Linked DNA regions of Homo sapiens. The protein of the gene in region 5 purifies or fractionates together with the protein of the main gene of each other region. This does not show direct contact. Each region holds a gene or a part of one and is shown on either strand. Other genes may lie near its edges.

The links.
Region 1: the proteins of USP34 (region 5) and VPS4B fractionate together in Homo sapiens (co-fractionation; one large-scale study listed by BioGRID). This does not show direct contact.
Region 2: the proteins of USP34 (region 5) and UFM1 fractionate together in Homo sapiens (co-fractionation; one large-scale study listed by BioGRID). This does not show direct contact.
Region 3: the proteins of USP34 (region 5) and ZNF74 purify together in Homo sapiens (co-immunoprecipitation; one large-scale study listed by IntAct). This does not show direct contact.
Region 4: the proteins of USP34 (region 5) and ZNF45 purify together in Homo sapiens (co-immunoprecipitation; one large-scale study listed by IntAct). This does not show direct contact.
Region 6: the proteins of USP34 (region 5) and UNK fractionate together in Homo sapiens (co-fractionation; one large-scale study listed by BioGRID). This does not show direct contact.
Region 7: the proteins of USP34 (region 5) and VSIG1 purify together in Homo sapiens (co-immunoprecipitation; one large-scale study listed by IntAct). This does not show direct contact.

What each region holds. Positions count from the first base shown.
Region 1 is NC_000018.10:63,391,131-63,395,326, forward strand, and holds part of VPS4B (vacuolar protein sorting-associated protein 4B), read right to left. Parts: intron 2,420-4,196; coding exon 2,279-2,419; intron 1-2,278.
Region 2 is NC_000013.11:38,355,923-38,360,118, reverse strand, and holds part of UFM1 (ubiquitin-fold modifier 1), read right to left. Parts: intron 2,027-4,196; coding exon 1,987-2,026; intron 819-1,986; coding exon 786-818; intron 79-785; coding exon of another isoform or gene 53-78; exon of another isoform or gene 1-52. UniProt on the Homo sapiens protein: Ubiquitin-like modifier which can be covalently attached via an isopeptide bond to lysine residues of substrate proteins as a monomer or a lysine-linked polymer.
Region 3 is NC_000022.11:20,396,781-20,400,976, reverse strand, and holds part of ZNF74 (zinc finger protein 74), read right to left. Parts: intron 1,383-4,196; exon of another isoform or gene 1,287-1,382; intron 346-1,286; coding exon 219-345; intron 1-218. UniProt on the Homo sapiens protein: May play a role in RNA metabolism.
Region 4 is NC_000019.10:43,932,217-43,937,085, forward strand, and holds the start of ZNF45 (zinc finger protein 45), read right to left. Parts: upstream 3,067-4,869; 5' UTR 2,708-3,066; exon of another isoform or gene 2,479-2,707; 5' UTR 2,210-2,478; exon of another isoform or gene 475-2,209; 5' UTR 388-474; exon of another isoform or gene 1-387. UniProt on the Homo sapiens protein: May be involved in transcriptional regulation.
Region 5 is NC_000002.12:61,187,852-61,192,047, reverse strand, and holds part of USP34 (ubiquitin carboxyl-terminal hydrolase 34), read left to right. Parts: intron 1-1,389; coding exon 1,390-1,530; intron 1,531-1,633; coding exon 1,634-1,777; intron 1,778-2,978; coding exon 2,979-3,138; exon of another isoform or gene 3,139-3,338; coding exon 3,339-3,946; 3' UTR 3,947-4,196. UniProt on the Homo sapiens protein: Ubiquitin hydrolase that can remove conjugated ubiquitin from AXIN1 and AXIN2, thereby acting as a regulator of Wnt signaling pathway.
Region 6 is NC_000017.11:75,822,762-75,826,299, reverse strand, and holds the end of UNK (RING finger protein unkempt homolog), read right to left. Parts: intron 3,036-3,538; coding exon 2,778-3,035; intron 2,039-2,777; coding exon 1,883-2,038; 3' UTR 501-1,882; downstream 1-500. UniProt on the Homo sapiens protein: Sequence-specific RNA-binding protein which plays an important role in the establishment and maintenance of the early morphology of cortical neurons during embryonic development.
Region 7 is NC_000023.11:108,068,369-108,072,564, reverse strand, and holds part of VSIG1 (V-set and immunoglobulin domain-containing protein 1 isoform 2 precursor), read right to left. Parts: intron 1-4,196.

The DNA.
Region 1 (4,196 bases), on a different chromosome or scaffold from region 5:
AAAAACCGTCATATTATCATTATTGCTATGAACTTTAACCTAAGTTTAAATATGAATATTTGCAGTCTGCCATAAGATACTAACGATAAACTCCCTATTCTTTTTTTTTTTTTTTGAGTTGGAGTCTCACTCTGTTGGCTCAGGCTGGAGCGCAGTGGCGTGATCTTGGCTCATTGCAACCTCTGCCTCCCAGGTTCAAGAGATTCTCCTGCCTCAGCCTCCCAAGTAGCTGGGATTACAGGCACCTGAAACCACACCTGGCTAATTTTTGTATTTTTAGTAGAGATGGGGTTTCGTTTTGTTGGTCAGGCTGGTCTCGAACCCCTGACCTCAGGTGATCCGCCTGCCTCTGCCTTGCGAAGTGCTGGGATTACAGGCGTGGGCCCCTGCACCCGGCCCCTATTCTTTCACAGATCTTTCATGATCTTTGATCATGTTATTCCTTTGTGTAGAAACGTATACTTTCTTCCCCTGAACTGATCAAATGGCTCCCCAATACTTATCAGAAGGACAATCCCCTTAGTCTGAGGATCAAGGCCTCCAAAGTATGTTCATGATCTAATTTCTGGCCTTATCTCTTTTTCTTAAACGAGATCAATTTTCCAAGTCAGTATAATTCAAAAGGAAAATATCATTCACTTACACTTAAGTGAAGCAGAATACCATTCTATGAAAAATCTACTAACCAGAATTTTAAAATAATTAGTTACAATTAAGATCGAAATGGTTAGAAAAATATGCTAATATCAGAGATTCATTAAAAAACTAACTTCTAAGCCTAGACTCCTGTAAAAGGATATGAAAAATAATGAAAAGGACCACTCTAAGTTACTAAAAATTCTTCAAAGCTGAACAAAGTACAAAAAATAAAAAATAATACACCAAGGATTAAAACAAAGGGGTTTCTGAGTAACTTCTCAGATAAGCATTATGGTTAGTTCACACACAAATATATGGGTGTATACACATTTACATGTATATCTATGTACCGTGTAAAAGTTTCTCCTCTGGAAGTTACTATTAAACCTGCCATTAAAGGTCTTTGAAGATCTGAAACTGACAGAAAATTTTGAAAACTGAGAATGTTCTTCTGTAAGTAAACAACTTTTCAATCACCCTAAGTTCCCTAAAAATAACATGCCTTGCAAAGTAAGTCTTGTAGATTATTTTAATTCTTCCAATATAAACTATATTAACTGTAATTTTTAAAAATAAAAATAGAACTACAATATTTAAACTTTCTATGGAGCTTTGAGAAGTGAAATAGAAAACACTATAAAAACAATGATACAAGCATTAGTATTTCTGGTTTTTGTTTTTGTTGTTGTTGTTTTTTGAGACAGAGTCTCGCTCTGTTGCCCAGGCTGGAGTGCAGTGGTATGATCTCGGCTCACTGCAACCTCCGCCTCCTGGGTTCAAGCTATTCTCCTGCCTCAGCCTCCCAAGTAGCTGGGACTACACGCACGTGCCACCACGTCTGGCTAACTTTTTGTATTTTTAGTAGAGATGGGGTTTCACCGTGTTGGCCAGGATGGTCTCGATCTCCTGACCTCATGATCCACCCGCCTCGGCCTCCCAAAGTGTTGGGATTACAGGCATGAGCCACCGTACCTGGCCCTATTTTTTGTTTTTTTTTTGGAGACAGAGTCTCGCTCTGTTGCCCAGGCTGGGGTGCGGTTGTGCAATCTCGGCTCACTGCAACCTCTGCCTCCCTGGTTCACGTGATTCTCCTGCCTCAGCTGAGTAGCTGGATTGCAGGTGTGCACCACACTGCCTGGCTAATTTTTGTATTTTTAGGAGAGATGGCATTTCACCATGTTGGCCAGGCCAGTTTCAAACTCCTGGCCTCAAGTGGTCTGCCCGCCTTGGCCTCCCAAAGTGCTGGGATTACAGGTGACTTCTGGTTATTTTAAAAAATCTGAGATGCAGGGGAAAAAAAATATTTCACCAACCCTATTTTTTAGTTAGGTCTTTACAATAATTATACTATATATGAGCATTTTGGAGATATTCTAGCTATAAGACCTGTAAAGTCAGAATCTTGTGCTTTAAAAAATAGCTTTTTCACTTAAAGGTTCCTCTAAACCCAAGAAAATAGTTTAAAAATAATGACTTTTTATATTTTAAGTTCAATTAACTTCATAATTTTTAATGAGTCAACAATATTAAGTAAAATACACCTGTTTATACTAAGATTTTCCAGCAAATCTTATATAACTGAAAATTATGAAGTATAATGTTTTAAAATATTTTCTTAAAAACAAACAAAATTTCAAACCATGGAAACAACTGGCTCCAAAAGTTTATCTCCAGGGACATCCATCCATGTCATTTCAATGGCACCAGGGTCACCTGGAGAGCAAGGTGTTAGCAGATCATCTACAAGATGGTTAGGATCAGCTCGGGAAGGTCCGCGAACCTGAAATAAACAGTAATCTGAAATATGTATTTGAAACAAAATTGAACATTAAGACTTAATCCATTACCAGGAAAGTTAAAATGTATAATAGTTTTGTATGTTTTATTAGAATGTTTACTTTTGGAAAAAAAATTAAGAATATACAACAAAAAGTAGTTATCCCCTGGGTAATGGGATAGATTTTGGTTGCTTTTAGTTTTTTTTTTGAAAGGGCGTCTTGCTCTGTCACCAGGCTGGAGTGAAGTGGCACGATGTCAGCTCACTGCAACCTCCACCTCCTGGGTTCAAGGGATTCTCATCCCTCAGCCTCCCGAGTAGCTAGGATTACAGGCATGTGCCACCACACCCAGCTAATTTTTTTTTATTTTTAGGAGAGACGGGGTTTCACCATGTTGGCCAAGATGGTCTTGATCTCCTGACCTTGTGATCCGCCAGCCTCGGCCTCCCAAAGTGCTGGGATTACAGGTGTGAGCGACTGCACCCAGCTGCTTTTAGTTTTTTTCTTGATGCTTTCTATATTTTGAAATTTCCTACAATAAATTGCTTGTATGATCACACATAGAAGATGAGTTAAAAAAAAAATAGTTACCTGTGGCTTTCTCTTTTTCCCCTCTAGTGCTTAATAAGTGGTAGTAATCTTAAAGACCAAAAACAGATATATTAAAAAATTCTCAGAAGTTGCTCTATAGCTGAGAAACTTCTGTAATATTTGGAACTTTAGTATGAAACTACTGAATCTCTTTCAACAAAAATGCTCTCAAATCTAAGTGCAAAATTGTATGCTAAATGCAGTATCAATGCCATTTTATCATGTACAACTTATTTATAAGTTTTAACAATATCCAGAAAAAGAATCTTTGTGACATAGTCACATGTAAACATTTAGATGGCAATAGTCTGCATCAACTTGGAGGCACTTCTTTTTTTTTTTTTTTGAGACGGAGTCTCGCTTTGTAGCCCAGGCTGGAGGGCAGTGGTGCGATGTCAGCTCACTGCAACTTCCACCTCCAGGGTTCAAGCAATTCTCCTGCCTCAGCCTCCCGAGTAGCTGGGATTATAGGCGCCCGCCCTGACGCCGAGCTAATTTTTGTATTTTTAGTAGAGATGGGGTTTTATCATGATGGCCAGGCTGGTCTCGAACCCCTGACCTTGTGATCCGCCCACCTTGGCCTCCCAAAGTGCTGGGATTACAGGCGTGAGCCACCGCGCCCAGCCAACTTGGGGGCACTTTCACATCTGTTTCACAATAATCGACTTTAAATATTATCTCAGTATTAGTGTAGATGTGAAGAAATACATGCTCTCACCTTATTATGTGTATTTTACTGTCTTTACTCACTAATATTTTAGCTGCATGAGGTCAGGGATTTTTGTCTTTTTTGACTGCTCTACTTTCTGATCTACCACCGGTCCCAGATTAGTATTTTAGAAATAAAATACTAGTAAATGCAAAAAATAAACAGGGAATCTTCTTCTTGTTAACTGAAATAATCAGCTTTAAAAGAAGTAAAGGATGGAGCCGCTGAGAGGTCTGCTGCAGCTGGTGATCCCCAGCTGCAGAGATAAAACTCATCTGGCTGTGTCACCTTCATCCCACTAACAAGGACCTGGCTTCAGCGTCATGTGAGCTCACCCTGGCAGTAATATGCAGAATTGAGTGACAAACTCTCAGTAGGAAAGGACTGAGTTCCTATGCATTTATAGTTTCTAAATGGCAAAGAGAATTTAAGAAAAAACATAATGGCTGTGGCATAAACTTAACAGTACTTCAGTAATG
Region 2 (4,196 bases), on a different chromosome or scaffold from region 5:
TAACAACTACTGAAGTAACAAAAATTTGCAATTTTAAATCACTTCATTTTCTTTATGGCTGAATTTCAACTGCAAGGCCTGTGAAAACAACATAATTTTGTTACAATAAAGAAATACTTTAGAATATAATTTAAAAATAACTACTGCTCTAGAATGAGGTTACATTAAAGCATGCCTAATTTTAAAACTTTAGATTATAAGCCTAAGAGATTACATTTTAAAAATATAAAACTAATTTTAAAAAAGTTTTAGACTTCTTTTTATAAAGTATGAGACTACTTTTACCCTGTCTCCTGGTCAGGACACCAATATATCACCTGTATAAATTTAACAGTTTGAAGATCTGAATGTAGACTCAGCCCCTTGAAATGTAAATGACTATATTTAAAAAAAATAATAGCACTTAATGAATGCTTTCTATAAATAATCCAAGCTATGAAGCACTTTACAGTCACTATCTCACAACTACCTTAAGAGGTAGGTCAAAAAATACTCCAATTAGAAAGCAATCTTATCTACAGACTTTTTGTTATATATAATAAATACTCTTAATGCTTAAGCCACTATTAGGTTTTCTGTTACTTGTAGCCAAAAACATCTACAATCAATATACACAATGAAACAACTTATTACTCAGACACACAGGTAAAGACTGGTATATAATCCCTAAAAAACAGCTCCATTATGTTAAAATACTGTCAAGTGTAATTAGAATAGCTTAACTATTCAGTGTCAATTGACATATATAACCCCACCCACTCCTCTATGAGTTTTCAAATACTCACCAGCAGTCTGTGCAGGATTTATTCCTATTCCATCTAGAAAATAAGTTGTAAAATCACATACATTATTTCTAAAGCTAAAATGGTTAAATAGTAGCAAGGAAAGAGATTTGCCAAAATAGTGCTGTTGTGTATATAGACATAAGCCAAACACTTTAAATCCAAGAACACGAGTGACAATCTTTCAGGTAAATTATCTGTTGAAATCTACTATTATTCTGCATTCATACACATTGCTGGGTTAGACAAAAACGTCTGTCAATGCAATGATCCTGGTAAGTTCTATGGAATATAGGTTATTAATTCTATTTTGCCATATAGAATTAAAAATAATGTTTGTCCTTTCTTCCAAAAAACTAAAAAGCCCCTTAGGTATGCCATGAATCATCTTCGTATTGTTCTAGGTCATAATATCTTAAGGCTGGGAGAGCTCACAAAGTCATTTAGTTCAACACGTTACTAAGTTATGACCTAAAACTTTCCAGGTAGTAAGCCAGCTTTTTTCCAACAGAGAAACACTTCAATGTGACAGAATGCAGAATATTTTAGAGTGAGAAATTCTACCTTATCTAAGTTACATCACGCACATTAAGCCCATCTCCTGTCCAAACTGCACTTGGGCAACGCATCAGCACTCATCAATACTGCATTGTATACTTGAAACACAGTTAAGCCCTCCCTGCAATCTTTACTCCTCATCTTATTATTTCACTATTTTCTCACAAGACTAATTCCATCATCATTGATTATCAGTGTTCCAAGATATTAAGATTTTTAATTATATACCTAAAACGGAATAAAATTCTCATTATTGCAAGCCTACAAGAAACAATTTTCTATCAGGAAAGGTATAGCAAAGATACATTCCTGCTTAACTTTCTATATTCTAAAGCATTTACCAAACAACTTTACTTAATAAAAAAAAAAACTTGCTAAATAAAGTTATTTTCAGTTATAATCTGGCATGAACTGGTAAGGACAAAAGATATTATAAAGTGCTATACTATATCAAAAGCTATATACAAAGAAATGAAAGGAGCTAATTATTAACAATAACCCTGACTTAGTGTTTACCAGTAAGTATATCATTTATGTTGATATACATATACTTGGGGCTTTTTGTATTTAATTTTAATTAATTTGGTTCCTTTTACACCATTTCTATAAATTTGAGGTAATACATAATTTTATAGTGAATTCTTACCATTGGTAATAATTGCACTTGTTGCAGCAGGAACTTTAAACTAAATAGAAGGAAAAAAAAATATATATATATATACACACACACACACACACACAAAACTATAAGATAATTAGCAAGAATGGGGTACAAATACCAATTCTATAATTCTAAAGTAGGATTAATCTTTTAGAATAAGTGAAACTATCAAGGAAAGTACAGCTGACCCTTGAATGACATATGCAGATTTTCTTCTGCCTCCGCTACTCCTGAGACAGCAAGACCAACCCTTCCTCTTCCTTCTCCTCAGTATATTCAACACAAGACAAGGATTAAGACCTTTCCCATGGTCCACTTCCACTTAATGAATAGTAAATATACTTTCTGTTATGATTTTCTTAGTATTTTTTCTTTAACGTTATTGTAAGAATACAGTATATAATACACATAACAAAATACATATTAATCGCCTGTCTGTGTTATCAGTAAGGCTTCCAGTCAACAGTAGGCTATTAGTAAAGTTTTTGAGAAATAAAAAAGTTTTATGCAGATTTTCAACTGCACAGGGGGTTGGAACCCCTAACTCCCACGTTATTCAAGGGTCAACTGGACTATATCATATGCTTTATCTGTAAAAAAAAAACCCTGTATTATAAACAGTGCTTTTGATTGTATTTAGGACACCATTAATTATAAAAGTGTACCTTATATTATACATTACAAAAATGAAAAACCACTGTCAATTTATGCCCAGATCAATGTTTACTCTTTAGGACTTATCCATCAATTTTGTCATTTATAATTCTCTTGAACAGCAAAAAGTACATGCAAAATAAACTGATGAGATTATTCCTAAAATTTCTCCATAGAAATTGCAAGATCTGAACAGATGCTCTCTGTGTTTAATGGGAGGTGCCTACCGAAGATTTTCAGGTAACAACCAAGGCTTGTATTCCTTACATTCCTCTGTAATGATTTGCTGATTTAAAGCTCAAGGATTGCAATAGTCCAATTATGTCATTAGGAAATAATAATTAAGTGTAGATGATGTTACCTAGACAATTAAGTGAAAGCCATTTGGCCAACAGTGATAGCAAGCCTCCCCTGATCTATTTCAGAGATGTTTAAAAAGATGTGTTTTTTAAATCAATGAAATGTGGTATGGAATTTATTGGTAGCTAAAAGGTAGATTCCATCTCTTAAAGAGACCAGCAGTTGCCAAAGTGTGTTTATGTCTTCACAGTTTATGCATTTATCCAACAAATTTAAGCATGTTTGTGCTATGGACTAACTTTATAGATATTATAGTTGAGTTTTGTGATCAAGTTTGGAAAACACATTTAACTAGTGGTCTTCTCAAAAGCCTTTAATATACTCCTAACAGAAATGAAGTGTTTCTCGTATTTTTTGACCAGTAATCCCTGTTCTTCATGAAGTTTTTTTTTTTTTTTTTTTGGTGGTACTAATTTGTGTGTGGTTCTAGTTGTCTGGGAAACACTACTCTAGGCATCTATAATCATTACATATACATAGTTGAGAAAAACTAAAAGCTTATTTTAAATTAGAAATTGAAGAATCAACTTTTAAAATAAGGCCTTAAACATACCTGAGAACAATTATTTGTTATAGTATTATGTACAAATTAATAATAAACACATTTTAATCTCAATGTGGTACACTCTTGTGTCCTTTTAAAGATTTTAAAATTTTTAAAGAATTTCAAAGTGTACTTAAGTAAACTTAAAAATGCATCACAAATATTTTGCACAGGCTGTAATCTCAATAAGAATTTGATCAAACACTCAAATGAACTATATAGGCCTCTCAGATTTCCAAAGCTAGAGTACTACAAAGTTTTTAGTTACCCTACTGATTGAGTCTTTTACATCATGCCCATTTTAAGATAATCTATGTATTTTCTTAGTCACATCCATGTAGTAGCAACCTATAACTTTAAAAACCAAAAGCAATTGCTGACACAGTTTTCCCTTTAGGCAGAATGTGGAAGAAATGGTTAAACCATGAGGAGGCATCACTGGTGATGTAAAATGTAGAATCTATTCCTTTTTGTCCTACAGTACTGACAGGTTTTCTACTGAATGCAAAGTATTCTTTTATGGTCTTCTGTTTTCATTTATTTTCCTCCTCCGATCCCCCATAATTCTTATAATTTAGGGCTCTTTGCAGGTTTCAACAATTCATTACTTACCCCAGTCATGTGCTGGGAAATTTTA
Region 3 (4,196 bases), on a different chromosome or scaffold from region 5:
AAACACCAAGCAAGGATGCTACCAGCTCCCACGCTGTCCCTTGGGGACTTCTGGCGTGGCCGAGGCCCCTGGCCATGAGTGCCCCAAGGCACAGGCCTTGCTTCCCACCCCATGATATATCTGGCACCAGGGCCGGCACTGAAGGGATTCTCCTTAATATCTACCATGTAGAAGAAGGCTGACAGCCGACGCCCAGCCTGGGGCTGGGGGGATTTTACCTAGGGCAAGAAGGTTCTGGTAGTTCTCCAACATCACATCCCGGTACAAGGCCCTCTGAGGGGAGTCTAGTTGACCCCACTCCTCCTGGGTGAAGTCCACAGCCACATCCTTGAAACTCACCGATTCCTGAAATGACATATAGGTTCTCACCCAGGACTGATTCTGTGTCCATGGTTCCAAAGGAGCCAGAGATTGATTAAGGACCCTACAAGTAAAGGGTTAACCTCAGGTGACCTTCTCCCATGCCAGAAGGTTGTGCTGTAGACACTGACCATGACTGAATTCGGGGACCAGGGGCAGGGAGGGGGGCTGGGAATTGGCATGCATTCCCACACCACCTTCTAGATTGGGAAAGCAGGTCTGAATAGACACCACAGGGCCCTGGCAACTTGCGGTGGGACCCAGGGGCTGTACATGGCTGTTGTATCAGGCTCTAAGTCCTGGGTGAGATGCTATGCTTCCTGGAGTCAAGAATTTCAAACTTAAAAATTTGAGAGAATATTAATAGTACAAAAATCCCAGCAACTCTATTCAAAGCTCAGTAACGCAAAAGGATCCGATCCCAGACTAGAAACTGTTATTACACTCTAAGGAAGGAAACCTTGTATATATCAGCAAGTTCTGTGCCCCAAGGGACTAAGAGAGGCTACCTGCAGTCCTCACCTGACTGCCTTCCAATCCTTCCTGCCTGCTCCCCCTGGGCCTGGGCATCCTGGCCACCACCCAACTCCAGACTTGCTTTGATCCTTGAAAGGATCAAATAGATGCCAAGTAATTTCACTGCATCCCAGAACAAATCCCAGAAACAAGGAATTCCAAAAACCTACTCAACAAAGTAAAATTCACAATGTCCAGCATCCAATCAAATAACTAAAAGGTGAAAAATATTAATGAAATCAGAGGAATTAAGAGTATATTAGAACAGTATGTGTTTACCTCAAAAGAAGTCATTAAGGGAGGAAATGAGAAACAAAAAAGACATAAGACATAGAAAACTAATAGCAAGGCCGGGTGGGGTGGCTCACGCCTATAATCCCAGCACTTGGGAGGCCAAGGTGGCAGATCACCTGAGGTCAGGAGAATTGCTTGAACCCAAGAGGTGGAGGTTGCAGTGAGCCAAGATTGCGCCACTGCACTCCAGCCTGGGTGACAAGAGCCAAACTCTGTCAAAAGAAAAAAAAAAAAAGGACATGTAAATCCAACCATATTAATAATTACACTAAATGCGAATAGTTTAAACACTCCAATTAAAAGGTGGAGATTGTCAAACTGAATTCAAAAAGCAAGCTACAGAAACCCACTTTACATACAAAGATAGGTTAAAAGTGATAGGATAGAAAAAGATAAACCCTGCAAATACTAATTTAAAAAAAAAAAGCTCAAGTGCCTATAGTAATAGCAAAGTAGATTTCAGAGAGAGGACTATCAGAGACAAAGAGAATATTACATAATGATAAAACAGTTAATTCATTAAGAACTCATAGCAATCCTAAATATAAATGTATCTACTAAAAGAGCTTCAAAATACATAATGCAAAAACTGACAGAACAATTAAAAAACACCATCATTCAACTTGACTTAACTGATATTTACATAACACTCTAACCAACAAAGGCATAATACATATTTTTTCAAGGGCATGTGGAACATTTACCAAGATAAACCACACTCTGGGAAATAAAATAAATCTTGGTAGACTTGAAAGACTTTAAATCACACAAAGTTCATTCTTTGATGACAATAGAATTAAATCAGAAATCCATAATAGAAAGTTATCTGGAAAATGCCCTAAATATTAGGAAATGAAACAACACATTCTGAAATAACATATGGCTGAAGAATACATCACTAGGGAAATTAGAAGCTATTTTGAGCTGAATAAAAGTGAAAATGTGACATAACAAAAGTTGTAGGATATAGTTGAGGCAGTGCTTAGAAATTTACAACGCTGAATGCTATATGAGGAAAAAAGGTATCAAATCAATATCTATGTTTCAATCTTAAGACACTAAAGTAAGTAAAGTAAGTTTCAATCTTAAGACACCAAGGAGATAATAAGGATCAGAAATCTCTGAAATGGAAAACAGAAAATAGAGAAAAATCAATAAAACAAAAAAATTGTTTTTTGAAAAGATCAATAAAATTGACAAACATATATTTACTATATGGCTCAGCAATTTCACACCTAGGTATTTATGCAAGAGAAATTAAAATGCACAGCCATACGTGTACTCAAATATTTATAGCGGGTTTATTTGTAATAGCAAAAGCCTATGAGTAACCTAAATGTCCATCGGCTGGTGAATGGATAAGCAAACTGCGGAGCAGTTTGCTCCATCCAATGGAGCAATGGGATGAAATGTATACCCCTCACCTCAAATTCTTATGTCTCAATGCTTGGTAACTCCGAGAGAGGTTTTTTTTTTTTTTTTTTTTTTTTGAGACATGGTCTCACTCTGTCACCCAGGCTGGAGTACAGTGGTGCAATCTCAGCTCACTGCAACCTCTGCCTCCTGGGTTCAAGAGATTCTCCTGCCTCAGCCTCCTGAGTAGCTAGGACTACAGGCGAGAACTAACGCCCAGCTAAATTTTTGTATTTTTAGTAGAGACAGGGTTTCACCATGTTGGCCGGCTGGTCTTGAACTCCTGACCTCAAGTGTTCCACCCACCTCAGCCTCCCAAAATGCTGGGGTTACAGGCGTGAGCCACTGCACCCGGCCTGGAGAGAGGTTCTTTAAAGAAGTAATTCAGTTAAAATGAATTCAATGCAGTGGGCCTTGATCCAATATAACTGGTGTCCTCATAAGAAGAGGAAATTTGGACACAGACATAGAAGAGGTAAGACCATGTGAAGATGCGGGGAAAAGGTGGCCATCTACAAGCCAAGGAGAAGCCTCAGAAGAAATCAACCCTGCTGACACCTTGATTTCAGATTTCTTGCCTCTGGAACTGTGAGGAAATACATTTCTGTCATTTAAGCCCTCCTGCCATACTTTGTATGGCAACCCTAGCAGACTAATACAAATGGAATATTACTCACCAATAAAAAGGAACAAACTACTGATTCACACAACAATATGGATAAACTCAAAAGCATATGCTAAGCGAAATAAAGCAGAGACAAAAGACCACATAATATAAATTCCATATGAAATCCTTAAAGAGGAAAATCTACAGCAAAACTATAGTGGTTACCAAGGGGAGAGGGGAGACCACTGAATGCACAGGGGCATGAGGACATTTTTGGGTCATGGAAACGTCCCATATCATGATTGTGGTGCTGGTTACACAACTGTATACGTTTGCTCAACCTCATCAAATTGTATACTTAAAATTGTACAACTGTGCTGTATATAAATTACACCTCAATAAAACCTTACCCCCCAAAACACTGGATTTCAGATGAGGAGGTAGAGATGAGGACAAATGCTGAGAACACACCCCTAACTGAGGCATGCAGGCATGAAGGATGACGATAGCCGAGGGAAGGAGAAAATGGGCTGAAACAAGGCTCCAAGCCAGGTGTGGGGGCACACACGTTGGTCCCAACTACTTAGGAGGCCGAGGTGGGGGATTTGCTTGAGCCCAGGAGTTGAAGGCTGCAGTGAGCTATGATTGTGCCACTGCACTCCAGCCTGGGCGACAGAGCAAGACTCTGTCTCAAAAAAAAAAAAAGAAAAAGAAAGAAAAACAAAAAAATAGCTCCACAGGTATCAGAATATGGTGTTGGCCAGTGAGGCTGTCAGAGGCTACATGGCTTCAGTGTGGGGAGCAAAACCAGCAAGAGTAGGGTAGGGTCTGAGGCCCGCACAGGCCTTTTTGATGGGTATTTCTGGCCACTGGGAGAAGTCCATGTCTAATGTGTCATCATTCTGCAGGGAAAGGAATAAAAAACCCAGACAGTATGCATTGGAATCAGATGCTGATGTGGTAATGACACTAGCAGAGAAGTCAGAACAGACCACACAAGATGTCC
Region 4 (4,869 bases), on a different chromosome or scaffold from region 5:
TCCCAGCTACTGGGGAGGCTGAGGCAGGAGAATTGCTGAAACCCAGGAGGCGGAGGTTGCAGTGAGCCAAGATCGCGCCACTGCACTCCAGCCTGGGTGACAGAGCAAGACTTTGTCTCAAAAAACAAACAAACCAAAAAACCCAAAAAACTGAACCTTAATAGTGGTCTGATTTGTCTTTAAGGGAGTTTGTTTTAGATCTTGACAATATTATCCACAATTGTTCATCAACTTTTGAATACCCTGAAAAAGTTGATGGATTCTACAGCCCACCAAACGTGAGATAACAGACAAGGACTGTGGATAATCCTTCTATTTTGTTCTCTAATTGCAAGCTGTAGCACCCAAAATCCAGATGCCTGTTGGAGAGCTACATGAATCACTTACTCACTGAATAACTCCTCTTTGCAAACCTCTTGCTGGGTACTCTTGAGAAGAATATGATAATGTCCATGAAACAGAGGTCCCTGAAGTCTAATGGGAGAGAGATAGGAAACCAAGAGTTATATGCCAGTGGCAAGTGCAACTCCAAAAAAGCAAAGAAAATCAATCATCTTTCTTTTCCTAATTGCAACTCTTTCTAGCTTTCTCACATAAGTAGCATTCTCCTAGCTGCCAGGAGTGAAAAACCTCAGAGTTACTGTTAATATCTATTATGGGCTGAATTGTGTGTGCCTCTCTCAAAACGTTAAAGTCCTAACGCTCGGTATCTCAGAAATAACTGTCTTTGGAAATAGGGCCTTTAAAGAGGTGATGAAGTTGACTTACAGCAAGGGAGCTCACGCACACAGAGGGGAGAGGCCTTACAAGCCACCAAAACTGGTGACACCTTGATTTTGGACTTTTAGCCTCCAGAACTGTAACAAATACATTTCTGTATAATCCAGCCAATTTGTAGTATTTTCTTATGGCAGCCCTGGCAAATGAATATAATTGCCCCTCCCTTGGCCTTCATATATAAACGATTAGTGAGGCCTAGCATGGTGGCTCACACCTGGAATCCCAATACTTTGGGAGGCTGAGGTGGGCGGATCACTTGAGGTCGAGTTTGAGACCAGCCTGGCCAACATGGAGAAACCCAGTCTTTACTATAAACACAAAAATTAGCAGGGCGTGGTGACGGGCACCTGTAAAGCCAGAGGCAGGAGAATTGCTTGAACCCAGGAGGCAGAGGTTGCAGTGAGCTGAGATCGTACCACTGCACTCCAGCCTGGGCAACAGAGCAAGATTCCATCTCAAAAAAAACAAAAAACAAAAAACACAATTAATGATAATTATTAGTTTTTAAGCCTTACTGACTCATCATCTGGGTTTGTTTTAAAATACTCAAGGGAAAAAAAGTTGGTGGGAGAGGCAATAAGATTAGCAAGAATGGAAGCAGGGTGACTGTACATAAGAGTTCATTATATTTGGGTATGTTTGGATATTTCCATAGTAAAAAATAAGGGAATAACAACCCACTATGAATAGTGTGATAACAATTTCATAAAACACAGACAAAAACACATTAAAAACTGCTAAACAGAAATGCATTAAAATGTTAATAATTATCTATATCCTAGTATTAAGGAAATTTGTAATATTTTATATTTCTGTATTTTCTACATCCTGTACAGAGAACGTGCATCTCTATGATCAAAATATGAACTACTAATATTGCTTAAAATTAAATGAGAATTCTTTCAAAATTTTCTAAAGTCTAAACTCAACCTTGCTTTCAAAATCTTCTACAGTAAAATTCCAACCTCCCTCCCCAACTTGATCTCAAATGGCTCCTCTGCAGCCAGTTTCCTATGATTATTTATATGGATCATTTATCTATTTTATTTCCTAATTCTAAATTGGGATTTCAAACTGTGAGACCAAGGGTATTCAGATGTAAGGAACCCAAGTCTAGGACACAAATCCCACTGTTCTTACTAGCACTGTGATATAGGAAAGTAAATTAGGCTCTCTCCATTTCCTCATCTGTATAATTGGTGTAATAACAGTACCCATATCACAATACCCACATCACCTTTGTAAGGTGAACAGAACCCACAACACAAGGCCTTTGTGAAGGTTCAGTGTGTTAGTTTTTATAAAGCCCTCAGAGTGATACTCAGCACCCAATGTTTAACTAGTGTGACTAATATTCATGTCACATTTTCTCCAATTATACAATAACGGAACACTTCTGTAGCAGAAACATTTGCAAGGAATGAAATACCTTCTCGCACTCGGAACAGAAGAGGAAGGTGAATGCTAGGTCCTGTCACAGTGGGGCTCTGCTGCCAGAAGCCAGGATGCTCTCCTTCCTCCTCTCCCGCAGCATTCTTTCAGAAGTCAGGGCAGGGGAAGGAAAGGAGGCTGGGAGATTGCACGATCTTGTCTGAGATCCTGGAAAATCCACAGAGGATAACTCCAGACGCCACCTGTTGAGTGATGCACTCTTTCTTAAAAAACGGGTCAGGCATAGTCCAAGAACAGCCTCCTTTCCTGCAGGAATCAGAAAGAAGAGCCAGGCGCTTGCTGAAAAATGAATATTTTTTATTATGATAGTTTTAATATTAACGGCCGACATGTTGCCACATTCCTGTACTATTCCATACACATTTTACTTGTACTATATTACTAATTGTCAAAACAAATATATAAGGTTAATATTTCCTTTTGCAGAAGAGGAAACTAAGACCAGAAACTAAGCACCGAAAGATTAAGTTCTCACCCAACGTTACACCGCTAGGAAGCTACAGAGCTGTGGGAGGTGGGGGAAGGCGGGTCGGGCCGCTGAGAGCCCAGGAGATCCTCAGACGCCTCCCCATTCAGGTCCACTTCCAACCAGGGGACTCCCGAACCGCCCCGAACGCAGCAGCTCCGGATACAGTAAGGCAATCAGCTGCCCAGCCATTCAACTCCGCCCTCCGCTGCTCGCCGCAGCGTCTTTTCCTGCTGACCGAAGTGCGAGCCCTGCTGATCCTACGACCAAACCATAAAAGTTAAAACAGGTCGCGGGGTCCCAGGACTCACTCACTTCCACGAGAGGAATGAAGGCCGCGCTCTCAACCTCTTGCCGCGGAAGTGCCCGGGAGAGCAGGGAGCTCTGGAACTACATTTCCCAGCATCCCCGGGAGGAACGGAAGCCGCTGCCCCGCCCCCTGGGCGGAAGTGCGGGCTTCGACTCCCACGGCCGAATCTTATTTCTCAGAATCCCCAAGGGGAGCGGGCTTCGTGTTCTCGTCCTCAAATAGTCGAAGTACCACCGAACCCACTGAGCACTGGGGTATAGGTTCCTATTTCCCCAGGGGAGCAAATAACAAAGCCGCGCTTTCCCAGAGCTGAAGTGCCCCCAAAAGTCTGGACCACACGTCCCAGAATCCTCTGTAGGGCTGAGCTTCCCGCCAGCCTGCAATTTTCCTTTTGAATTAGCGGGGGGAGTCTAAGTCATTGCTTGTAGAGCTCAGCCTGCTTTTTCCTTTTGCCATTGTTCCCTTTTATACGTGACAGAAGTTGCGAATATGAAAAAAAAAAAGGAAAATACAAAGGAATGCTATGTGTGAGCTAAAAACAGAGGTAATAAAAGAGGTGGCCAGAGCCGCCCAGAGCAACAAGCCTTTTATAATATGGGTATGGATTCATCTGTGATTAAAAATGCTCAAAAAAGGAGATGCAATCATCCAGCAGGACATGAAACAAAAGCAGCAAAATTCTCCACTTTTCTTGCGCTTAGTTTTCTTTCATTCGCAGGATACTGAAGAAAGTATTATAGTATTGAATAGGCTCTATCCTATATAAAATCTTGAAAACATTCAGTTCAGATTAAGGAATCACATCACTTCTTGCTCTCAGAATCAGGAATCTGTAAAGGTGTCTTATGATTTGCCAAAGTGTCTATGAATATTCAGTAAGGAGAGGGAGGTGAAGTGAGGGATTAAGACATGAAGTGCAAAAAATACAGAAAGCTATACTATTCACTTTTCTCCTAGGTAGAAACTAAATATTTTTCCAAGTTTATTATGAAAGGGTAAAGAAGAAAAAATGGAAGTTGACTACATAGGAGTAGCTGTAAACATCTGAACAATGTTCAATTTAGGCTGAGGCAGGAGACCAGCAGGGCGTGATTCCAAGATCAGATAAGAAACCTGCTGAAACCAGCAAGTGATGGAAAGCAACCTGTAAGTTCCCTTTGCTACCTATCAGTATAAGACACTCCCACCAGCGCCGTGACGGTTTATAAATGCCATGGCAACACCTGGAAGTTACCAACCCCTTTTCTAGAGATTTCCGAGTAACTCACCCCTTAATTTGCATGTAATGAAAAGTTGGTATAAATATACCCAGCCAACAGCCCATATGCTGCTACTCTGGGCACACTGCCTGTGGGCTAGTCTTGGTCTGCAAGGAACAGTCACTGAGCTTTTAACACTGTTGATTCGATAAACCTGCTTTCTTCCGCTGCTGGCTTGCTGTTGAATTCTTTCCTGAGCAAAGCCAAGAAACTGCCCTGCATCAATGCCATTTCAAAATCTGGATAAGTACTCTCTCTACTTTAGTAAGAGGAAGAGAGAAATGTAATCACCCAATGGACTCATCTTGCCCACTGCCCAGAGAGAGCCAATTTATCAAGACAGGAATTGCAATAGAGAAAGAGTTTAATACACGTAGAGCTGGCTAAATGGGAGACCAGGGTGAAGACTGAACTCTGCCGTTTTTTCTTTTCTTACTCAAATTCCTATCTAAGGGTCTGGGGAGTCAAGCCCTCCAAACCATAAAGTCTCATGAGAGGGGTTTTAATTTAACCCTATATAATGTGACTTACTTTCCAACCTGTCATAACACCTCATGACGGATAAGAAAGGAAATCAAAATACTTCAACCCCAAATATGTTT
Region 5 (4,196 bases):
GGTTTCTCTACTTTTCCAAAACAGAACTCAAGTGTAGAGACCTTATCAGAGTCATCTCCATCCCCTGAAGAAATGCCACGTTGTTCTCTACAGTAGAAATCTTTCAGAGGCTAGTATACACTGATCTTAGCTCACTTGACTTAGCATACAGTAGGCATTCAGAAAATGACTTTTATCAGTTGATTTTTGAGCTGAGTGTTCTGTTCAGTCAATTGGAGATCTCGTTTTCCCTCTCCACTGCTACTGCTGTTCTTTTTCATTCTTCCTGATTTGGGTAGTTTCTTGGTTTCTGTACTCTCCCACTACCTATTGCTCCCTATTGCTTTCTCTACTTCTGCATCGCAGGACTCCCTTCGCTTGACTTCTTTCACAGACAGAACTCACTGTGCCCCCAAATTTCCCTTAAAACAAAGCCTAACCATATAAGGCCTCCAAAGCTTCCAGTGCTATAGAAGCAGCCATCCTGAGCAAGAAACAGAGGCAGAGGCACAGGCTGTGACTGGTAGACCAAGGCAGGTTTTTCCTAGTGTTAAGGATCTCAAGACCTGGGTCTTGGTCCTACTTGAATCCTAATTTCTTGACTGACCTTGAGTAATTTACTTATGACAGCTGCATACTTTAATAAGATATACACATATGCATATATATATATATATAATCTAAATTTTGTCCTATTTAAAAAATATATTGCTTTTTTCCATATAAATTATTAAAATGCACATTTAAATCTATGGAGTGTATCTGCTTAAAGACATACTACTTGTGTTTAAGAGCCATGACTATTTGAAAACAGGAAAACCAAATTTTAGTAAAATTTCCATATATTGAGACCACTGATTCTGTGTGAGATAATTAGGAAAGAAGATTTATTGTTTACCCTTGCAGTGTTTATGGGGGGAAAAGGTATTTACAGAATTACTGTTGCTAGCGAGAATATACAGTAAAGTTTAAAACATTTTGGAGAATTGATTTTGATTCTTAAAATGTGTCTTTTTGCAACATATGCTCTGGTTACCTATAAATACATTAATTTGGCCCTTGAAAACATTCACATCCTATTCTTTGTTAGCCTTATTTTTCCAGTCCTTGTTAACTCTCTCAGTGCTGGATAATAAACCTGCATTTCTTTTAAAACATTTGTTCAGTTTCGGCATCAGTGTCTTCCCCCAGCACTCCCTTAATCTAAATTAGTAACATTTTACTGTATGAAAAATAGTTGCTGTTAACTAAAAATTCAATAGGTGAGTTAGACATGGCTTTTCAAGTAGGATTTTCAGTGGCTTCAGATTCCATCATACACAAGTGTATGTTTTTTCTGTGTAAGTTTTTTCCGTGTAAGTTTTTTCCGTGCTCAACCGTAAGTGCTCAACCATCTTCTCCCCACTTTAGTCTGCTATGTCAAAAAACTGCATCAAGCTTTTGTGTGAAGATCCTGTTTTCGCAGAATATATTAAATGTATCCTAATGGATGAAAGAACTTTTTTAAACAACAACATTGTCTACACGTTCATGACACATTTCCTTCTAAAGGTACGTAGTACTTTGGAAACTCAGTGTGTCATTTCTAATTAGTTAATGCTTGTGGTTTCATTATGCTGGTCTTTTGGAGATTTTTTTAAATCTTCTTTTTCAGGTTCAAAGTCAAGTGTTTTCTGAAGCAAACTGTGCCAATTTGATCAGCACTCTTATTACAAACTTGATAAGCCAGTATCAGAACCTACAGTCTGATTTCTCCAACCGAGTTGAAATTTCCAAAGCAAGTGCTTCTTTAAATGGGGTAAGAACTATGCAGAGGCGGCGGCACACACTTTTAAACTGTCCTTCAGTTAACTGTGTGGCCTTCATATGATTTTACTCTCGTAACTTTAACTTACTGATTCAAACTCTTAAGCCATGTGCGACAAAAAAACAAGTTTTAAATACACGTTTACTATGCCTTGTATGTACACAGCACACTCTATCACCTTGGAAGCTACAAGCTGGTATCATTAAATGCTGAAAGGTAATAAAGGGAACATCTTAGTGGTCTTATCTCTAGTTGGGTATATTTTTGGAAACAATACTTGTGATGTTTCTATTACTGCCTATGGCTCCTATGTAACTGAAACAATTAATGATCTACTGATTTAAAAAAGGCAGTTAAATCTAGAGCATTAGTTGCCTTGTGCAGACTCCCATGACAGCCATGTCCTAGAATAATGGAACACTCTGGAAATGGGCTAGAATGTTGAGCAGCAGCCTCCCAAATCACAGTATGCATAAAAGCCAAAACAGATGACAGAGCTCAGTAAGGAAGACCTTACTATTTGTGACATCCATCAGAATTTTAACTTGAGAAACTGATTTCAAGGTTTGTTTTTAAAATTCTTATATTTCCTTTTCCATTTTTCAGAAAACACTATTTCAGGCTTTGGTCTGACTTACTGGTTCGTGGGCATAAAATAATGCTATTAGTGACTTTAAGAACTAATGAGGCTGGGCACGGTGGCTCATGCCTGCAATCCAAGCATTTTGGGAGGTCGAGGCCGGTGGATAACGAGGTCAGGAGATTGAGACCATCTCAATGGCCAACATGGTGAAACCCTGTCTCTACTAAAATAGAAAAAATTAAGCCAGGCGTGGTGGCGGGCGCCTGTAGTCCCAGCTACTTGGGAGGCTGAGGGAGGGGAATCGCTTGAACCCGGGTGGTGGAGGTTGCAGCGAGCCGAGATTACACCACTGCACTCCAGCCTTGCCAAAGAACAAGACTCCATCTCAAAAAAAACAAAAACAAAACAAAAAAAAAAAACAACTAATGAAATGCTGTAGTATCTTAACACTGGCTTTCTGGTTTTATCATTCTAAGAATCCCAGAGAAACCAGGGTATTCTTAGGAAAGAATGGATTCCTGGGAAAATAAACATCTGCAATTAACTGTAAACAACTGCATCAAAGTGTTGGCTTTAGAATTTGAAATGTTCCTATCTGGGTTTTTGTAGGACCTGAGGGCACTCGCTTTGCTCCTGTCAGTACACACTCCCAAACAGTTAAACCCAGCTCTAATTCCAACTCTGCAAGAGCTTTTAAGCAAATGCAGGACTTGTCTGCAACAGAGAAACTCACTCCAAGAGCAAGAAGCCAAAGAAAGAAAAACTAAAGGTTAGCTTTATGGACTACTATCATTACCTTTAGGGTGGGAGGAGGGAGTAATACACTTGGTGTAACTGGTTTAAGAGTTGTGTGTTCAGCTGAACCTCCTAAATATAAATGCTAGAAACAAAATTAACTTCCCACATCCCCCCCTAACGTGATCTTAATGACTTTCAGAGAAGTTTCCCTTTTGGCATGTGTTTTCACAGATGATGAAGGAGCAACTCCCATTAAAAGGCGGCGTGTTAGCAGTGATGAGGAGCACACTGTAGACAGCTGCATCAGTGACATGAAAACAGAAACCAGGGAGGTCCTGACCCCAACGAGCACTTCTGACAATGAGACCAGAGACTCCTCAATTATTGATCCAGGAACTGAGCAAGATCTTCCTTCCCCTGAAAATAGTTCTGTTAAAGAATACCGAATGGAAGTTCCATCTTCGTTTTCAGAAGACATGTCAAATATCAGGTCACAGCATGCAGAAGAACAGTCCAACAATGGTAGATATGACGATTGTAAAGAATTTAAAGACCTCCACTGTTCCAAGGATTCTACCCTAGCTGAGGAAGAATCTGAGTTCCCTTCTACTTCTATCTCTGCAGTTCTGTCTGACTTAGCTGACTTGAGAAGCTGTGATGGCCAAGCTTTGCCCTCCCAGGACCCTGAGGTTGCTTTATCTCTCAGTTGTGGCCATTCCAGAGGACTCTTTAGTCATATGCAGCAACATGACATTTTAGATACCCTGTGTAGGACCATTGAATCTACAATCCATGTCGTCACAAGGATATCTGGCAAAGGAAACCAAGCTGCTTCTTGACATTAGGTGTAGCATGTCTACTTTTAAGTCCCTCACCCCCAACCCCCATGCTGTTTGTATAAGTTTTGCTTATTTGTTTTTGTGCTTCAGTTTGTCCAGTGCTCTCTGCTTGAATGGCAAGATAGATTTATAGGCTTAATTCTTGGTCAGGCAGAACTCCAGATGAAAAAAACTTGCATCTTCAGTATACTTCCTAAAGGGCAATCAGATAATGGATATGTTTTATGTAATTAAGAGTTCACTTTAGTGG
Region 6 (3,538 bases), on a different chromosome or scaffold from region 5:
CCTGTTTTTGTTTTTGAGATGGGATCTCACTCTGTCACCCAAGCTGGAGGCAGCTGTGCAATCATGGCTCACTGCCGCCTCGACCTCCTGGGCTCAAGTGATCCTCCCACCTCAGCCTCCCTAGTAGCTGGGACCACAGGCATGCGCCACCATGCCCAGTTGGGAAGACACTGTTCCTCTGAGAAACAGTTACGGGCCCTATTGCCAGTCACCGCTGACCACACAGCCCTAAAGAGTCCTAGGGCCTGGGGGGCCTCTGTGTCCAAGGCTAAGGGTCCCTGTGTCATCAACCGCTAGGCCTAGGTCGGAGAGCACTTGAACTGTCTTGGGGCCTGATGGGCCCAGGAAGTTTCCAGCCCTCTCCAGCTGCCTTACCACAGCTCAGGGGTGTGGGCAGCAGCCGTTTCCATGGCTGAGGCAAGGCTCCTGGCCCACCTCATAGTTCAGAGGCCCTCTTTTGGGACCCACTCCCCCTCACCCCCATGTAAACAAGCTACCACTGCAAGTTCATATTTTATTTCCAATAGGTTTGGAGCTTTGTTGATTTTTGCATTTTTGTAAAAAAGGAAAAAGTTTTCACTTAATTCATTGAAAGCCCTTTCGTGCTGAGCCCAAGGGGGAGCCTGGGCCAGGACCAGACCCTCTCAGCCCTCTTGTTCCTACCGCAGACACCCGGTGCTGGGGGTGCGGCTGCTCCCCTCCGCCCACTCTGCCCTCCCGCCCCTGCTGCATCTCTCTCTGTACAGAACAATTTTTAAAATGGAAGCTAAGACACAATATACACTGGACAGGCACACACACACGCACACAGGCGTCCGCCCAGAACAGGGCGGGACACCAGCTGCACTCAGAGAGCACCAAGGAATGCAAACGGAGCCCCTCCGGGTAGGAGGGCAGGGCCTGGGCCCCCTTGGTCCTCAGTCCTCAGTCCGCACTCCTCCCCGCCAATTGCCCTGCTAGCTGCCAGAGAGGGGAGGGGGCAGGGAGAGCTGGGGGCAGCTGGTTGGGGGCGGTGGTCATAGAATGAGTACCAGCCTGGTAGGCGGCCCTGGGGCCAGGGAGGCTCTTGTGGGGAGTCCGGGGAGGGGCGGCGGGGGGAAGGACTGAGGGTGGACCCTCAGGAACCTGAGGGCTGGAACTCCTGGGCCTTGCCCCTCAAGGAGCTTCAAGGGCCCAGGTGTCAGGAGTGGGGCTGGCCCTGCAGCACTGGCCTCCAGCCCTTGCTGTTCTCCCCAAGACTAAATTAACATTTGGTAAACTTAGGAGCTAAGCCAGCTGAGACCCCCAGCACTCCCCCTCGGGCCTCCCTGAGGCCCTCACAGCTGGGGGCCAGGCCTGCTCTGGGGGACCCACGTCTTCCACACTCCACCCTTGCCCTGGCAAGGAGGTAGGGGGAGCAGGGCCTGCCCTGAGGGCTTCTCCCTTCCCCTTAGTGCCTTCCAGTCCCACCCTTCCCTGCTCAGGCCCCAGGAAGAAGTTAAAAATAGTTAGTTCCTACATTAAAAAAGAGACAGAACCAGATTCTCTGCCAAAAGGCCAGTGGGAGAAGAGGGGATGTCATCTCTGCAGTGGGAAGGGCAGGGAGTGGGTAGGGGAGGACTGCAAAATAGTTTCTTCTTTTAAAAAGTGCTTGGTAAGTCTTTTAAAGTGTGTGTCTATATCTATGTACAGATATACACACAGACACTGTCCACACCACCACGCATACCTGCACACATACGGAAATGTATACATATACATACATACGGAAATGTATACATATACATAATCATATACATATACATACATACATACACATATATATATATATTCATATATATATATATACTTTAAAAAGTCCTAGGTGAGAAGATCTGGGCCAGGCTGGGCCAGGCCTGCAGGGTCACGACTGGAGGGTGTGGGCCCGGCCAGGCTGGCAGATGGGGCACTCGCTGCCCTCAGCGCAGAGCTCACACAGCGCAGCGTGTTGGCACGGCAGCACTGCCCGCTTCTGTTCCTGACACTTAAGGCATTTCACCGACTGCATGTGGAACACGGCCTGCAGGGAAAGGGGCATCGTGGTCACCATCCATGGGTCTGGCCCCAAGTTGAGCGAGGAGTTCCCTTGATCCTCACTGCAGCCCCTTGGGATGGGAAAACTGAGGTACCGAGCTCAACAGTGTGCTCCCAGACCCCTGTTGGCAGGTGAGAGAGCAGGCTGAGTCCACCTCTGCATGGGGCATGGCCAGGCTGCCACAAGACCCACCCCTCAGAGAGGCTTCGCCCAGTCTCATTTGACCTTGTAATCCCCAGATGGGGAAAATGAGGCCCAGAAAGGGCTGGGACATGCCCAGGGCCACACCCGGGGGCTTGGCTGCCCGAGAACAGAGGAAAGACAGCTCTTCCCACCATGCCACGTTGGCCCCGGGGACCCAGCAGGAGACCTGGGAAGGCAGGGGTAGCCCTGGGGTCCTGGGCCTCACTGGAAGGCCCGCTGCTCCATGGAGGGTGTACAGGAGGACGCATTTGGGGCCCAGGCATTTGTGAGAAGCTTGGTCAGGGCCGCCCTCAGGGGTGCTGGGGGTGGCACCGACACCCCTCACCCCCAGCCTTTTCACCTTCCCCAGTGCACTCTCCTCACCCATTCCCAGCAGGCCGGCCTTTTGAGTGCTGGCCCAGTGCTGGGCAGAGGCTCTCAGGAGGGTGGCCATCCCTGGAGCAGCCTGGACCAGGTCAGAGTCCAAGAGCTGGCTGAGGCCACCGTGCATCCCACCCAGTGCTCCCCGACCTGGGCTGACCTTGTCCACTTGTTCCAGGTGGGCCCGCAGTTGTTTCTGGAGGGAGTAGAGGGTGGAGAGTGAGAGCGCCTCCAGGTCGGAGAAGGCGGGCAGGGCCTGGGGCTCAGGCCCCGCGTGTAGCCGCTCCAGCTCCTCCTGGAGCTTCTTCACCTGCACCTCCAGTGCATCCCGCTGCTCCCGGGCCAGCTCGCACTCGGCGCCCGCCGCACTGGCCCGCTCACCAGCCTCCTCCGCCTCTTTCTTCCAGGCATCACAAGCCTGTGGGGCCAGCATACAGTCTCATCACAATGGCCCTGCCCTGCCCCTGTCCCCAGAGAGCATCATCTTTTGGGGGCCACTCTGGCTGCGAGGCCTGGTGGGAAGCTGGGTTGGCTCTCTGGGAGGAGGGCAAGGAGGAGGCTGATGCTGTCTGCACAGAGGTTTCAGAACCTGCAGGAGACTCTCCCCTCTGTGGCCAGGGAAAGGGACCTGGGCCTAGCACAGCAGGGACACAGGGTAGAGCTGGGATTCTGGCCAGCACCCATAGGGTAGCCGGCTGCAGCTGGACAGGGGGCCCATTTCAGAACCCAGAACCTTGGACTTGAAACCCTGGAGAGGCGAGGCTACTGGGAGGAGGCAGGTGATCCTGGGACAGACTACAAGCAGCTCACAGAGAGAATTTGAAGCCTGCAACAACAGTAACCACCCAGGGTCCTGACTGGCAAAGCGAGTCCTCCCAGGGGGAGAGCGAGCGAACAAAACTGAGTTTCTGCTCTGTTCTT
Region 7 (4,196 bases), on a different chromosome or scaffold from region 5:
AAAAAAATTCTTGGCCAGGCGCAGTGGCTCATGCCTGTAATCCCAGCAATTTGGAAGGCCGAGGTAGGTGGATCACCTGAGGTCAGGAGTTCGAGACCAGCCTGGCCAATGTGATGAAACACCATCTCTACTAAAAATACAAAAATTAGCTGGGCGTGGTGGTGGGCGCCTGTAATCCCAGCTACTTGGGAGGGTGAGGCAGTAGAATCACTTGAACCTGGGAGGCAGAGGTTGCAGTAAGCCAAGATCACGCCACTGCACTCCATCCTGAGCAACAAAGTGAGACTGGGTCTCCACACACACAAAAAAAATTATTAAAATGTATGTTGGCAGTTTTCTGCTTGCACCACCAGGTGGGAGTAGAGCACTTCAGGTGCAGGGCCCTTCTAGTCAAGAGGCCATTAAGATTCAAATAGTGACTCCTCTGTCTGCCTCCTCCTCAGATTTATAACCATGAATTTCCGCATTGTGTCTTAAAATATGCCTTTATTAAAACAGCCAAATATAAGCAAATACTAAATGACCAGGAATATAGTTTATGCTTTAAAAGCACAGTTTTAAAGGAAAATAGAATCCTTAAATACTCTGAGATAACCTATTATTCTTTTTAAAATATTTAATGCTGTATTTCTCTTTTCTCTCATGATTATTTTCTTTTTTTTTTTTTTTTTTGCATTTGTTCATCTGTGGGTGACACAAATAGTTGAAAGGTTTAAATTTGCCTGTGTGCATCATCAGTAGGGGAAGTCCATTTGGGGGGTGCACGCTACTCAGCACTGAAATATTTATTCATCCTTCACTCAGCAAGCACCCATGCCTTCTGTGGGCCTGGCATGGGACTAGGCACCAGGAATTCAAAAGTAACTTTCACACAGTTCTAAAGTGGGGTGGGAGAGGGATGAGAGATGACTTTAGAGAGGGGAAGAGGCCTCCAAGACCACAGCAGGAAGAACAGGTTTTAGGTGAAGGGGTGACAAGGAGGAAGGGGTACTAATGAGGTCAGTCCGGGACATAGAGTTTTAGCTGCTTATGAAAACATGTCAGGGGAGAAGTCCTGTGGGAAGCTGGGAATCTGAATCTCCTCATTCATCTTACTTACTTGCACGGTTTATTCTATCTTACATATCTTATACATTTATATATCTATCATATCTACATATCTATCTTATATCTCTTATCTTAGATATTTATTTTATATCTATACATCTATCTTATACACCTTATATATCTATCTTATATACAGACAATGATGTAAATTTCTATACTTTCCAACTCACCTTGCTTATCTTCATTTTGCTCTAGAACCCTTTAAAGCTTAGGTTCTCTAATTTAGGTGAGTTAGACATGAAATGTGTCATATTACTCAGTCCTACAGCTCTTACCTGAGACGCAGTGGTTAAGGGCACAGCTCTGGATCCACACAGAATACGGGCTTTGTAACTCTACCCTGGATCTGTATAGGCAAGTTACCTAACTTAGCCAAACCTCAGCTGACTCATCTGTAAAACGTGACTAAGAGATTATCTAACCTCTGGCTGATCCAAGTATTAAATACAATAATAAATATAGGGCCTAGAACCTGGAATTTCTGTTGGCCACAGCAGCACTAATTCCTGCTACTAAAGTTACTCTCCCATTGACTTCCGCTCAGTTCAGCCTTCCCAGACTCTCACTATCTGTACACAGGTGCGAGAAGACAGATGCATATAGCTATAATTCTTAAACAGTTTACTAGCCCTATCTTTTAAGCATGTGTCTTTTTAATTGAAAGGAATATCCTTCTACTTAGTTCTTTATTCTTTCTTATCAAAGATTTTCTCAGGTAGGAACAACTTGTTGGATGTGCCTATCCTAAACTAAGCTATTTAACCAGAAGTCCATTGCAGCTATCACTAGATTTAGATACTGCCTTTTTAAAAAGATGGCTATTGTATAGCCTTTACAGCAGAATAGAACAATTTGAACAGAAAATTAAATGGGGGTGTTTCATCACAAAGTTGGACACCAGGACTTGAACTAAATTATGGCAAAAACCTGGAATGACTTGCACTCATTTCTTGAGCCCAGAATCAAACCCAGATAGGCATTTTTTTTGCTTAGAATATTTTTCTCCTTTTATTTTTTATTAACAAAACATTTAGTGAATCACTTTGAACCAAGTCCCAAACCTATATATTTTCTAAAACTACTGACCCAGGATTGAACTGAAATTTCATCCAGTTAAAGTCCCCAGTGGAACTTGGGTATTTTACTGGCAAAGCCATTGATCTACCATTTAGCTTTATTGCTTTCAACAGAATTGGGGTGGGAGGAAAAGGCTCAGCTCAGAAAAAAAAAGAAAAAAGAAAAAACAAAGTGCTTCAGTAGGTTCTTAAACCTTCCCTAAATCAATCATTTTCTTTTTATGTGCCAAATTGCGGAAGGTAGATGATGCTCATTCCAAATGCACACAAAATAATTATTCAAACTTGATCTGGGTATTTTTCAGAGATTAATTTTCCAAGGTTGTCATACCTAATGGAAAGCTCTCAAATGAATGGCCATCCAAACCACCTGGTTCTTTGCCCATTGCTGTTTCCTTCACCTAAACTGTGCCTTGCCATCTCAGCCCCTCTTCTTCATCACACACTCTTGCACATCCTTCAACATTCAGCACAAAAGTCACTTTCCTCAATAAGCCTTCTCCAATTCCTGATACAGCTTTTTGCCCTTTCCCCTGTGCCCTCATAGCTCTCCTCTCATACCTCCACTGAAAGCTTTTATGTTACGCGTCTGTCTCCTTCACTAGACTGAATTTTAGAGGGCTAAGACCCTATCTTTTACATTTCCCCATGTCCATTGCTTAGCACAGTAACTGGCACGTGTGCTCAGGGTTTGTTAAATGAATTCATGCATGAACGAGTAAATGCATGGGATTGATGCTCACTGCTGGGTAACAAAACATCTGAAAGATACATTGCTATGAGAGTCATCTTTAAGGAAATATCAACACCTCTCCCCACAATTAACCTGTCTCTCTTACCCACCTGTCCCCATCTTGCCTCACCTTTCAGTCAGGGCAAGCAAAATTGTCACTCATATACAATGAGATTTGAGAATTGCAAATAGTCGCTGCAATTTTTAGAGAAAATTAGCAGTCTCAAATTTTCCAAAAAGCCTACATTTGGAGGAGGCCTTTGTTCTTTGCCCAATTAACAAAAACAATATTTTTTAGAGTTCCTAAACAAACAAGGAAATCCACAGACCCTTCTGCCTCTTACCTTGTCTGGATCCTGGCTGCTTAAGGAAAAGTCATGACACAGAGCTATCTGACACAAAGACTCATGGGAAAAAACACCTCTGAGATGAAGTGACCCTCAACTTCTTATGGAAATTGATTTGGGATCCTCTGAGCTTTAAATTTAAGAATATTAACCTTCTTGTCTAACTTTATCTCAGGGCTATTTCCAAGCTCTGAGATGAAGAGACTTGGCTTCTTTAGATTGTTTCTGGTCAGAACATCCCAGAACCAGGAAGCAACAGAAAATCATTAGCTAATCCCTCCAGTTTTTGAACATTTAAAAACCCCTTTGATCTCCAGTATTTCATTTTATAGGTAAAATAACAAAACTGTTCATAACAAACCTGTAAAGAAGACAGGGCAGAAATTATAACCCCATCTCACAATGGTCAGAGAAAGGTGGACTGACTTGTATAAGGTCACTGAGTACAGAGTAAGATCTAAAACTCAGGTCTTCTGAGTGCCAGTTTGATGCTTTGGCATTTATAGCACATCACTTAGTTCCCATGTATATAACTAACTAGTTGATATGGTTTGGATCTGTGTCCCCACCCAAACCTCATGTCAAATTGTAATCACTAATTTTGGCGATAGGGCCTGGTGAGAGGTGACTGGATCATGGGGGCGGATTTCCCCCTCGGTGCTGATCTTGTGATAGTGAATGAGTGCTCATAAGACCTGGTTGTTTAAAAGTGTGTGGCATCTTCCCCTCCCCTTCCTCCTGTTCCAGCCATGTGAGACATCTTGCCTCCCCTTTGCTTTCTGCCATGATTGTAGTTTCCTGAGGCTTCCCAAGAAGCTGCTATGCTTCCTGTACAGCCTGCAGAACCGTGAGACAATTAAACCTCTTTTACTTATAAATTACCCAGTCTCAGGTATTTCTTTACAGCAATGCAAGAATAGACTAATACACTAG